2 linked regions of the Homo sapiens genome follow. Each later gene encodes a partner of the first gene's protein in a complex. Each region holds a gene or a part of one and is shown on either strand. Other genes may lie near its edges.

Region 1 (7,029 bases):
TTAAAATACTTTCTTGAGTGGTCTCTTCATTATAATAAATGTCTTTATAAATGGTTAGGATTTCATGGTAACTAAAATTGGTGGGTCAGTTTTAAGTTGTATTTATGCAGTTGAGGATTTTTAATCTATTAATTAAACAACTGTTTGAATTTACTTAAAAAAAAAAACTCAGTCAAGATGCTGTGCATTTTGCTAAAGCTGGGCTGGAGAAGTGGGGAGAGATACAAAGATGAGTATAAATGAAGGTTTTCTTTTAGCCTGTCAGAAAAGAGTAACTCTACTGATTGGTTGATTTTGATAGTTATCGGTAGTGTAGTTTTCCTTAGTTTCCTACTAGAACCCAAAGGGTGGCTGATGTCTTAAAAGTCCTAATCTTGTGGCCAGAAATTTATGAGCTTTTATTTACTCTTGGTCATCACTTTGTAATACATGAGAGTATACTCATTATACATTATACCACAATTTCTGTAACTTGGTTTTTGTCACCCCCGCCTTTTTTTTTTTTTTTTTTTTTTAAGAGACGTAGTCTTGCTTTGTTGCCCAGGCTGGAGTGCAGTAGCGTGATCTTGGCTTACTGCAGCCTCTGCCTCCCAGGTTCAAGCAATTCTCCTGCCTCAGCCTCCTGAGTAGCTGGGATTATAGGTGCCTGCCACCACATTTGGCTGGTTTTTATATTTTTAGTAGAGATGGGGTTTTACCATGTTGGTTAGGCTCTTCTTGAACTCCTGATGTCAAGTGATCCTCCCGCCTCAACCCCCCGAAGTGGTTGGGATTACAGGTGTGAGCCACTGTGCCCGGCGACATTTTTGACATTTTTTAAATGACATTTTTGATCAGGATTGTTTTTCATGTTACTTCCATCTTAAAGGCACTTCGCTGTCTAAGCTTCAATTCTTAGTTCTGCTTTTAAGTAGCTTTTTTTATTCCACACAAAAAGCAGAGGCTACTGAATATACAGCCTTCTTGGTGAGGATTATAAAGGGCTTTAGTTTGGGTGGTGATGTCTGTAGTAAGAATAAAAAGTTAAAATAAAAGGTAGCTGATGGTGGTGGTGTATACAGAGATTAGTAGGGTTTCTAAGAAAGAATAATAAAAATTTGTGAAATTGTTTCTATTTTTCTGATTTTTTTCAAAAAAGATAATTGTATTCATGGATTACTTGTGTAACTATTGTTACAATTTTTAAAAATAAAAGAATGATAATTAGGCATGATGAAGATTAAATCTTTTTTTTTTTTTTTTTTTTTGAGATGGAGTTTTTCTCTGTCACCCAGGCTAGAGTGCAGTGGTGCGATCTCGGCTCACTGCAACCCCTGCCTCCTGGATTCAAGCAATTCTTCTGCCTCAGCCTCCTGAGTAGCTGGGATTACAGTAGCCACCATGCCTGGCTAATTTTTTTGTACTTTTAGTAGAGACAGGTTTTCACCATCTTGGCCAGGCTGGTCTCGAACTCCTGACCTTGTGGTGCACCTGCCTCGGCCTCCCAAAGTGTTGGGATTACAGGTGTGAGCCACTGTGCCCGGCTGAAGATTAGATCTTTATGACTAATTGGATTTTTGGGTAAGGGATTCAGAACTTGATAGATGCTTCTTGACTTAAAGTGGGGCTATGTCATAAGTCAAATGAGTTTAATTCTCAGATAAACTCATCCTAAAGTTGAAAAATTGTAAGTTGGGCCACCTGTAATTGGGGACCATCTGTAATTGGGAGAATGCTAGTGACATTGAAATAATTAGTTATCAGTTAGACATAAATATGTACCTTTTGAAAATTTCCCATAGAAAATTTGAGTCATTATTGAAAATACATTTTCAAATTCTTTTGATTCATCAATAAGTTTGTTTGCAAAAGTTAATGACAGTGGCATAGAATTGAGTTTGTAGACCAAATTACATGGCATAGATATGTATTTAGACGAATATGACCTGAAAATGGCCCTTTTCTGACCTAATGGTGGGAATCAACTCTTGTTTGATGTTTCTTAAAAGATTCTACTTTATTAATTCTGCTTGTTTTAGTTACATCCAGAGCATTCCAGTTGTTAATGAAGAACACAGAGGTGATTTTTCCTATATTGGAAATTTGATGACAAAAGAATTCATAGGTCAACAATTGATTCTAATTATTAAGTCTTTGGATACCAGTGAAGAAGGAGGAAGGTATGTCTAAATGTTAACACTCATTCTAATTTGCCCTTCTAATTTCTTATATTGAAATATAGTCCTTTTACAATATAACTAAACATATTTACCCTAGCTCTCTAAAGTGGTATAAAAAGTTTTCTTTTCCCTTCTACATATTTCCATATATACACATACATTTATATTTCTAGTTCAATTTCCTCAGAATAAATCAATGAAATTGCAGTTTTTGGTTAAAAGTTTCTGTTTAGATTTATTAAGGCTAGTAGCATTTTCTAAAAGGTTTAATCATTTCTGGTATTTTGTCATTTTATCATGTTGATTTATTAAAAATCATAGGGTGTTTTATAAAAATTTTTTTTTGTGTGGAATAAGAATATTTGACCTAAAGTCTGTACATACAGATTTTTGTACCTATTATAGTGATAAACCTAAGTGAAAGAACTGAGGCAAATGTAATTAAGTTTGCAGAGTAGGTGAATGTTAGAGATAAAACATGTTTTGTCATAATAATATTTAAATTAGTTCTTTTTGACTGCAGAAAAAAACTGCTGGCTGTTTTACAGGAGATTCTTATTTTACCCACAATCCCAATATCCCTGGTTTCTTTTCTTGTTGAAAGACTACTCCACATCATTATAGATGATAATAAGAGAACACAAATTGTAAGTAATTTTCCTCATTGTTGATAAAGAGGTTTTGGTCAATGACATTGAATACTGTCTTATTTTCTGTTTAGAACTTTTTGTTTTGTCTGTTTTGTTTTAGGTTCGTCTCTTTAATGAGTTTTAAAATTTCTTAAAACCATTATCTATCTCTTACATACACAGAATATTTGAAAAATGTCACCTTCTTCCTCTTAGTGTACCTGTTATTGTTGAATCAGTTTGAAATGGAGCAGGTTTGGTAGGAAGTTACAAGTGGGGATATGGTTTTGTCCATGAGGCACTGGGTGCTAGTGTTTTTGAGAGCTTACTCAAATTGTACATACTAGGGTTTAGAATCTCATCTGACACTTTCTGGCTTTGTGGCTTTGGACAAGTTATTCTGCTGTTTTACTTGTCTGCAAATAAGAATAGCAATGAAATCTACCTTTCATTTTTCAATGAGGTATTGTTCATAAAGGTATTGTTCTGTATTGCTTGATAAATACAGAAATAATTGTTTACTATAATACTATTTCAGTGTTATTTTTTTCTGGCATAGCCAAAAAAGACAGATCTGTATCATTTATTTCATAAAAATCACATAATTTCAGTTGCAGGTTAATTCACAGATCATCTCTTCCATCCTCTCCTTATATATACACCCCTTCTACAACATGCTTAGTTGTTATTCAGCATCTGCTTAAATACTTTCATTTGGGAGGCAGCCTTTTCCTGATCAGCCAATTCCAATATACAAGTGGTTCTGAAAGGAAAGTCCTTCCTTATGCTATTATTATTTATGCATTGTCTACCCAAAGGAAGAATAAAAGGATATTCCATTTTTCTGTGTTTAACTCCTACAGAGCTGAACAAGAGAAGGGTTGAGGATTTTAGGCAGAGAATTTAAGTGTCTCATCTTAAGCACCATAATTCATATTTCTGTTTTTCAAACATTATATGAGGGATAATTTACTTTCACTGTCTGTGTGCCTATTTCCCTTCCATTCAAATAATTTCATTTTGTAGTCAGATATATTGTTTTGTTTTGTTTTTTTCTAAAATTGTCTAGCAAACAGAATGTGTGCTATTTCTACCAGTATGTTTTTGCTCCATTATTCAATATATGGTGGATACTACTTGGAGTTTTATATAGAATTTTGATACTATTTGCTGATATATCAAACATATATTAAAGCATGTACTCTGAACTTACAGGTTACAGAAATTATCTCAGAGATTCGGGCGCCCATTGTTACTGTTGGTGTTAATAACGATCCAGCTGATGTAAGAAAGAAAGAACTCAAGGTAAGTCTCTTTTAAATGAAAGAAGTGCTTGAGTGTAATGTAGCTGGGCAAGTCTATTCTTTCCTCTTGCTGTGCAGTTCTGAAATGTTTCTCACATAATCAAATTATTGTTTAATTGTTAAACTATAAGAATATTTAAAATGTTACCACATATGTCAGTCTCAGAGATATGCAGATCTCTGTGTCAGGAAAACTACAAGTTTGCATATGCCTGACTCATTAAATTCTGGGCAGTTGAGATATTAAATAATACTCCTGAGTTGCTACAGATATTCATATTAACAGTTTTTGTTCAGTGTTGAAACAATTTATATCTTCCCTTAGATGGCTGAAATAAAAGTTAAGCTTATCGAAGCCAAAGAAGCTTTGGAAAATTGCATTACCTTACAGGATTTTAATCGGGCATCAGAATTAAAAGAAGAAATAAAAGCATTAGAAGATGCCAGAATAAACCTTTTGAAAGAGACAGAGCAACTTGAAATTAAAGAAGTCCACATAGAGAAGGTACAGGTAACTTTTTTCATACTAAATCTCAGGTGTTATTAATCATCTCAACTAAATCTTATTTTCTCTAACTTCTAGAATTGCCAAAATATATTTACTTTGAGCACTTTGTAATAGTGACATGAATTAAAATGAAAAAAGTTTTTCCCTGTTTCTATTTTTGGACTTTGAAAGGCCTTAATTAACTTTAATTATTGGAGGTAGGACTTTATTTGCTTCCTTGTCATGCTAATCTCTAGAATCCGAAGTCTTTCTTACCAGGGAAGCTAGCTTTCCAGTGGTTCACATCTGAGTTTTCTGTTTTTTGTCTTGAATGGTTTAAAAAAGGAAAATACATCCATTTTCCTCTTATTTGTGGAGGATCAATGACCTTTCTTTTTTATTGCTAGCAAAATAATTTCTATGGTAACGTGCATTTTTTTAAAGCTAAATTACTTTTGTGTTTTTAGAAAAAGCTACGCAGCTTTGTTATTTTTAATGAAATACTGAAATATGTCTAGTAACATTTAAAGCTTGCTTTTCAGTAGTTCGTTTTTTAAAAAATTAGTTTGTTAAAGTACTCTCTTAAATGGAGTATGTCTTTCCTTCTGAAAGAAATTTTTTGTTAATGGTATCGATACCATTCTGTCTTACAACAAATGATAAATATGTAAACATAAGATAGGTATCAATTAATATTTGATATTAACTTTAATTTCTTTTGGGATCTTGCCTTTTGTAATGAACATCATTTATTGTTGTACTTTTGGGATGTGCTGATTATTCTCATAAAAAGAATGCTAAATAGGAGACTCTTTTATATAGGAGAGTTTCATGAGTTATGTTTCTGATCTCTTTAGCCATAGACATCCCAACTCCAACACCCACCTTCCCAGAGTGTATGCCTGAATTTTATTTTGATAGCTGGTGGCTTCTTTTATTTGACGAAGTCTGTGGGCCATTATAGGCTATTAAATTTGGAAAGCAAATTTAAAGCAAAAACTGAAAATATCATCTGAAAAATGACAAACTTTAGGTCAAAATTATAAAATTAGCAAAAGTAGTCTATCATGGTTAATATCGTCTGTTTAACTTGACTTGCTTTGACCATTTATGTGTCTATTTGTCCTGTTCGAGGGCTACAAATCTGTTAAAATGCAACTACAACAGAGCATAATAAATGCTATGGTCAGGGAAGTATAGAGGTTTTATGGAGAGGTTTCTAGTGCTGGTAGAGTATTGTTGGCTTCCCCAGAGGAAGACATGTTTTATCCTGAGATTAGAATAAAAATAACAATATAATCTAACAGTCAGAGGATACTTTTTCTGTGGTAGTCACAGCATTAATTACTTCACAAATGTGAATTCATTCTTTTCTTCCTATAGGCCTATGAGGTTGGTACTATTATTATCTTCATTTTACAAAGGGCAAGTAACTTGCCCAAAATCACACAGATAGTAAATGGTGGAGGCAGGATTTAAACCCAAGAAGTGGCTCTAGACTTGTGCTTTTAACTCACTCTGTGCTGTCTCTCCTCAATGAATTATGGAAGGAATGTTGTAGACAGATGGAGCAACATCTGTGATGGTCCAGAAGTTAAAGAATGCCTATTATGTTTTAAAACTTCAGGTCCATGTGACTAGAGAATTGATGGGGAGAAGCAGGAGAAAAATCTGGGGAAAAATTAAGGGCTAGGTCATGTAAGGCTTTGCGTAAGCAATATTAAAAATTTTGTATTCTAAGGATTGTGGTGAACCACTAGTATTTTAAGTGGTTAGGTAAGTCTTATGTCTCAGATCACTGTTGTTTAGGAAATGGATTGGAGAGTAGTAAAAGCTTAGACAGGCATAATAGTTGGGAGACTTACAGTAGGGTTGGGAGACTTACAGATGATGGTAGTCTGAACAAGATAATGACAGTGGATTTGGAAAGTAGTGATGAACTTGAGAGGTATTTAGAAATTAGTAACGGAGAAAAGGGAGTCAGGAATGTATCTTAAGTCTTTTGGTTTAGACAACTGGGTAGATGGTGATGACAGTATGAAGATAGAGAACAAGGAAGAGGAGAGATTTGTGTAATGATGAGTTCCCTTTTGGACATGTTGAGTTTGAGGAAACTGTGGAACATCAAGAGGAAATGTCTTTTAGCAGTTATATATATGAATCTGAAACTTAGAAAATAGCTGGGCTAGCTCATAGATGATAAACGAGGTTGTCAGGTTTTTTTTTTTTTGAGGTGATAATTAGGCAAGATGAAGATTAGACTTTTTTTTTTTTTTTTTTGAGACAACGTCTCCCTCTGTTGCCCAGGCTGGAGTGCAGTGGCATGATCTCAGCTCACTGCAACCTCCACCTCCCGTGTTCAAGCCATTCTCGTGCCTCGGCCTCCCAAGTAGCTGGGACCACAGGTGTGCACCACCACACTAATTTTTGTGTTTTTAGTAGAGATGAAG
Region 2 (7,029 bases), on another chromosome or scaffold:
TTGTTTAAATCTGCAATTATTATTTAGCCCAATGTCTCATGGATTTAATTTATAACATGGAATGAACCAGTAGTATAAGAGTTATATTTATTCTAAAAACTGAGAGTGAATTTCAAAATGATAATTCAGTATTTATAAAGTTATGATGGTTAAATTATTTTATTATGCTCACTCCAAATTGCTATGGAATTTTATTACATAAGGGTATGCGTATAAGAAAGTGGGTGTTTTTCCTGAAATATAATATTTTTCCATTTGAAACTCTTCCTAAAGGACTCAAAAACTTTAGCAGCAAAGGAAAAAGAGGTTAAAAAGATAACAGATGGACTGCATGCCCTTCAAGAAGCAAGTAATAAAGATGCTGAAGCTCTGGCAGCTGCACAGCAGCACTTCAATGCTGTTTCCGCTGGCCTGTCCAGTAATGAAGATGGAGCAGAAGCAACTCTTGCTGGTCAAATGATGGCCTGTAAAAATGATATAAGTAAAGCTCAGACAGAAGCCAAACAGGTAAATAGAGACATTAGCACTATGTGATTGCTTTTTTTTCCAAGAAGTTTCTTTTCATGTTATGCTTTGGCAATTGTTACATAATGTTGAAAATAATCAGTCTCAAGGAACTTGTTTGTTTACTTTATTCTGCAACTCTAATGCCTAATGCAGCGAAATTCAAATATGTTGATTGCTAAATATTGGTGATGTTAATTTGTGAAGATGCTGTACTACATAAATTATCTTAATTCGGTATGTAAGTGCAATAAATGCTTTGTTCTGTTTGCAGCATTGTGTGGAATTTTCGAGATTAATGCATTTATTCTTGTCTCTTTTTGGCTATTTTTATTTTTTATTGATAACATAATGTTGAAGTCTTAAGCTTTAACAGGAAAACAGGATTGTCCTCCCCATTGCTTTGCCTGCCATACCTAGTTCTTAAAACCTTGTTTCTCAAACTTTACATTTTTTTAGGAAGTATCTCTACCTCACATGTAGCCACATTCTAGTCTGCTCTCCCTACTCTGATTTCATAATCTTAAAAGTCTTGTCAGTCTATTATAATGTTTCTCAGATTTTACATAGTAGTGCAACTTACAGTCCTATGAACATAAGAATTTTGCTAGCAGAAAAAATACATGTACACAGGCACATCATTGTTTTGTTTTTAATGGAAGACACAGATTTTAAAACATGTACACAAATGTGTGTGATTATGCGTTAATCCTCAGGTTTTTCTCTTTATATATTTGCAACTTTTTCATTCAGGCATGACAGATGATAGTCACAAATTTATAAGAACTCTCAATAGTAGAAAAGCTTTAAAGTACTCTACTCTCAGTTTGTCTATTATTTTATAAGGGAACTGGGAAAAATACATCATTATACAGTTTTGGAGGATACCCCCATCTAAAACCCCATCTAGGTTTTAGAATACTAGTTCATAGTTTTAAGAAGCAGTGTTCAAGTGTATAAATTCTTGAAGGCCTGACACATGTAATTTAAATAGTTCTAGCATTTAATTATCAGACTCAGCATTTAAGTTTCTCTGTCAGTTTAGCTTCTTTTCCTGTATAATCTTACGTCTTATTGCTCAATTCAGTTTCTTTACTGTTATTAGATAGCACTCACAAATATATACACATACAAATATGAACAACTAAGCGGAAAGGAAAAGAACGAGAGTTGTGATTTCTAGCGTTCTTTTTTTAATTACCAGCTACTGACAGTTATTCGATATAATCCTTCAATTTGAATATGTCATATTTTATTAAAAATACGGACTTAAATTTCAAATTCTTTTACATATTAATCATATATTAGTTTATACTTTGAGTAGTTTTTTGAGGAGAAAATACTGGGAAATGACTAATTTGTTGAAATACTAATCCAAGAGACCAAACAATTAAACTTTGAAGGTTAAGGTCTCTTAGTAAAACCAATCTGAATCTTCGGCCATTTAATTACTAGCACTGTCTGCCTCATACATCCTATGGTCTGTTGCATTTTTCTGCCACAGGCTCAGATGAAGTTGAAGCATGCTCAACAGGAATTAAAGAATAAACAAGCTGAAGTTAAGAAGATGGATAGTGGCTACAGGAAGGATCAAGAAGCTCTAGAAGCTGTAAAAAGACTTAAAGAAAAACTTGAAGCTGAAATGAAAAAGCTAAATTATGAAGGTTTGCCTTTAAAAACATGATAATCAGATCATGAGGAGGTAGTGATTTTTGATAAAAAGCTAATTTAAATAAAGAACGCAAGCAAGTAGGAAACATTTCTTAGCCTATTAACAAGCATTAGTATAAGAAGTGTTGTAAATATCGTCAAAAAATACCTAATTATAAAACAACTCTTGAATTTTTGAGAACTCAGTATTGAGAATTTCCTGCTTCAATCATTTGAAAGCTCAAAAATGTCATTTGTGTATTTCTACATTAGGCATTCAGTTTGTATGTTATTTTTTGGAATGAAAATTGTGTTATTTGCCGTTGGAAATAATGTCTGTTTGACAGTGGATAGAAATAGGAAGGTTCAGCATGCTTTTTTAATACTTACAGAAATTTGTATTTTTTGCATGCTTTGGAAATAGTGGTTGCTAATATTTTCCTTAAAACAGTAGAGTGAGCTTTTAAAACTTGGTTTTAATTTATTATGATTTATCCTTCAGAAAATAAAGAGGAAAGCCTTTTGGAAAAGCGCAGGCAGCTGTCTCGTGATATTGGTAGATTGAAAGAAACATATGAAGCTCTATTAGCCAGATTTCCCAATCTTCGATTTGCATACAAGTAAGAGACTTAAGCCTTGAATTTTAACATAGTAATAATCAAGACATTTTTATTTAAGCTGGAAGCAGTGTGAAAATTTTGTCGAAACCAAGATTTTTGTATGAAACTTGTTGTAAGCTGCTTTTCTTTCATTGGTATTTTTCCTTTAAACATTTGTTGAAATGTTTTAAATGTTGGCAGGGAAATTCTTGTGAAATTTAATGGCTAATGATGCCACTAATCTTAAAATGAGGGAAATTTAATCTCAGTTCAAAATGTCTTCAGAGTTACTGTATCATTAATGTTAAATATCCACATTTACATCTTATAATTTGTTTTGCTATGTGGGTTTTTTATGGAATATTTACAGTAATCATATGTATTATAGGGATTAGAACATCAGAGTTGTTCTTACTACATTGAAACATACTGAAAGATCTATTGTGATTTAAAAACAACAGCTGGCTAGTCATTTGGGACATTTTAAAATTTTTGGTTTGTTAAAACCATTTTGCTGATTCTACTTTCATTTCACTTTAATGTGTTGTCCAAAAGAGCTCCTGATGAGTAAAGTATAACTTTTTCTACTTTATTATCTAAGATTAATTTTTGTCAACTTTTGTATTTCAGGGATCCAGAGAAGAACTGGAATAGAAATTGTGTGAAAGGACTTGTGGCTTCTCTGATTAGTGTGAAAGACACTTCTGCAACCACAGCTTTAGAATTAGTGGCTGGAGAACGACTCTACAATGTTGTAGTAGACACAGAAGTAAGTTGATTTTAATTTTAAAAAATTTAAAATTTGGTTAGCTTGAAAAGTCATGTGCTGCTAAAAGAATTAAATACTTTGATGTTTTAAGGCTCTCCCCTAAGGTGACTTATTTATAGGGTAAAACTATTTGGTTCATAACTTTTTGATAACTATTCCAAAGGAGGTCTCATGCTTACTCAGAAACTCAGAATGCATATTACCAATCTTAAACTTTTGGGATCTCTTTGCTGTATAAGTTGAATTTAATTTGTAAAATAATCTGGGAATAAATGACCTGTTTTTGATGTCAGTCTTCCCATCAAGGTAACATTGAATTTATTTACATTTCTTCAGTTCTCACTTATTATCCTTCTGTAGAATGCTCATATTCTTTCCTGTAAATGCTACGTAGTCATTGTCAAATTTACTTCCTTGTTTTTTTTTTAATTTATTTTATATATATATTTAAAATGTACAAGAAGCCTGGGTATGGTGGCTCACACCTGTAATCCCAGCACTTTGGGAGGCTGAGGTGGGCAGATCATTTGAGCCCAGGAGCTCGAGACCAGCCTCAGCAACGTGGCAAAACCCCATCTCTACTGAAAATACAAAAGTTACCCAGGCGTAGTGGCGTGCGCCTGGAGTCCTAGCGACTCTGGAGGCTGAGGCACAAGAATTGCTTGAACTTGGGAAGTGGAGGTTGCGGTAAGCTGCGGTAAGCTGAGATTGCACCACTGCGCTCCTGCCTGGGCAACAGAGGAAGACTGTATCTCAAAAAAAAAAAGAAAAAAACAAACGTACAAGATGTTTTGATACATATACATAGTGAAATGATTATTGTAGTCAGACATATTAACATAGCCATTCACCTTCCATAGTTACCTTTTTTGTGTGTGACAGCACCTAAAATTTACTCTTAGCAAATTTTCAGTATATAGTATTAATTATAGTCCTCATGCTATACATTACATCTCTGAATAGGTAGATTTATTTATCCTACCCAACTGCAAATATGTACCCTTTGACCTATGACCTACTTCTACCCATTTTCTTTCACTCCTCATCCCTGATAACCACTATCCTACTCTTTTTATTTGTTCAGCTTTTTTTTTTAAAAGATTCCATGTACAAGTGAGGTCATACAGTTTTTTATTTTTTCTTCGTCTGATTATGTCACTTAGCATCATGTCCTCTGGGTTTATTCATGTTGTCCCAAATGGCAGCATCTCCTTTTTCAAGTTCAAATGATGTTCCATTGCATATGTAATTATAACTTGATTGGGATAAATGGCACTAAACATTCATTTATTATAGACTACTAAACTTGCATTCTCTCAATTTTCTGTCATTTTTAACATGCGTTTTTTAAATTCAAATGTGTGTTGTAGGTTACTGGTAAAAAGCTACTAGAAAGGGGGGAACTGAAACGTCGATACACTATAATTCCACTCAATAAAATTTCAGCCAGATGTATTGCACCAGAAACTCTGAGAGTTGCTCAGAATCTTGTAAGTCTCATTTTGTCTTATTTATATGTTTAATCGTCATCTGTGGTTTTTTTAAGTTAGAAGACATTAATTTTGAGGGACATAATCATATGCAGAACCACAAAATTAAAATACAAAAAAATTGGGTTGGCTTGTGCAATTAGATGATAAGAGAATAGAGATGTTGGAAGACTTGAACTCCTTTTGATGCTTCACTTTGTGGTATTAGAATGTCCTTTTTAACCTTAAGTCACATGACTATCAATCAGGTGATGGTGAAAATTACACTCTTGATTCCTGAATGGTTAGAACTGAGCTTCTAGATACGTACCCCAAATTCTTCAAGTTTTTGTTTTTGTTTCTTTTTATGTCAGGCATACTAAAACTGCCCACAGTCACAGCCATTATGGAAGGCCTTCATTAGTATTGCAGTGATGCTTCTTTATTAGAGTTCTTCTAGATTGCTATTCAGCCTGTGCAGGTACATAGCAGGTGACCAGGATCCCATTCAACTGCTGACGTTGATCTAAAGTGACATGCTTGCTAGTAAGAAAATAGATTAGTACAAGGAAATACATTTAAAAGTTATTGTAGTTGTGTAATACTGTAAAAACATGAAGTCAGTCATAACATTCAGCTGTAATATCAGTTTTTTTATTGATCAGACATTCCAAGTACATCAGTTGAAAAGACATTTCTATGAAACTTAAAAATATACTTGTAACTAAGTGGATGTTGTTGTATCCTTAGTTACATTCAGAAGATTTCAATGCAAATGATTTCAAAATACAGTTGTGTTGATATGTATACTATCAGGAGAGGGAGGATGAGTGCTGAGTAATTGAAAGGTGATGTTTTTGGTTGGTACTTTCTTTACTTGAAAACTCACCATTAAGTCAAGAAGGCTCAGGAAGTTAATTCAGCCATACATCGAGTCCCAGCATTAGAAGGAAATTGGGATTTCAAGTAACAGCAAAAATACTTTGCCTCAAATCCTTTAGCCAAACCTATTTGATGGTAGCTGCCACATCAAAGAACAATACTGAACATGTGTTACATAGAGCTTCCTTCATTGTGACTGCCACTGCTGATACTAAGCTCTAAAAGAGATGCTTAGTTTTTCTTAAATGATGGGCAGAGGTAGCCTCTATAAACAAAGGCTGAGAAGAAGCATTGTGATCAAAATAGAGGACTGGGGATTTTTTAAATTACTTTTACTCTCAGTTATTGTGTTTTCATTTCTGTAACTGGCAGACGACTGCTCTAGCATGTTTCATTTGTATGAGAAAATATTTGTTGTGAAATCAAATTCCTGATTATTGAAACAACATTTTCATATAGTTGTGTTGATCTGGAAATTATAGGTTAAGCACTCCAAGTCCAACAACTGAAATTTTCCAAAATTCAAAACTATGACACCCAAAAAATGCTCATTGGAGTATTTTGGATTTAGAAAGTTCAACCACTGTAATACAAATATACCAAAATCTGAAAACAAACACTTCTGTTCTAAGCATTTAGGATAAAGGATACTCAATCTGTACTATAATTAAAGTTGTGTCCAGTCAACGTTGGTGAAGGACACTTAGAAACATGGTAATGGCTCCTTATTGATAGAAACTTTCATAATGCTCCATACTAGCTATTAATAAATATTTTACTTAGCAATAAATCTTTCAGTATTTAAACCTGCAGTTTTTTTTTCCTGAAACTTTGAGTTTTACATAGCTTTTTAGAAAATTCAGAAAGAGTTTTAATGCTAGGTAAGTATTATTTAAGTTTCTATTACAGCAGTTTTTACTGGTTTATAAAATCATATCTGAAAGGAAAAGTAGTAGTATGTACTGTGGCATATCTGTTGTTGTCCCACAGGTTGGCCCTGACAACGTTCATGTGGCTCTTTCCTTGGTTGAATATAAACCAGAACTTCAGAAAGCAATGGAGTTTGTCTTTGGAACAACATTTGTTTGTGACAATATGGATAATGCCAAAAAAGTGGCCTTTGATAAGAGGATAATGACTAGAACTGTAACTCTCG

The links. Proteins that work in one complex are often made in the same cells at the same time.
Region 2: NCAPG (region 1) and SMC2 share a complex: the UniProt entries of both Homo sapiens proteins name them as parts of the condensin complex.

What each region holds. Positions count from the first base shown.
Region 1 is NC_000004.12:17,820,965-17,827,993, forward strand, and holds part of NCAPG (condensin complex subunit 3), read left to right. Parts: intron 1-2,018; coding exon 2,019-2,159; intron 2,160-2,682; coding exon 2,683-2,806; intron 2,807-4,003; coding exon 4,004-4,093; intron 4,094-4,417; coding exon 4,418-4,597; coding exon of another isoform or gene 4,598-4,603; intron 4,604-7,029. UniProt on the Homo sapiens protein: Regulatory subunit of the condensin complex, a complex required for conversion of interphase chromatin into mitotic-like condense chromosomes.
Region 2 is NC_000009.12:104,111,308-104,118,336, forward strand, and holds part of SMC2 (structural maintenance of chromosomes protein 2), read left to right. Parts: intron 1-273; coding exon 274-507; intron 508-2,008; coding exon 2,009-2,168; intron 2,169-2,656; coding exon 2,657-2,774; intron 2,775-3,383; coding exon 3,384-3,522; intron 3,523-4,892; coding exon 4,893-5,012; intron 5,013-6,863; coding exon 6,864-7,029. UniProt on the Homo sapiens protein: Central component of the condensin complex, a complex required for conversion of interphase chromatin into mitotic-like condense chromosomes.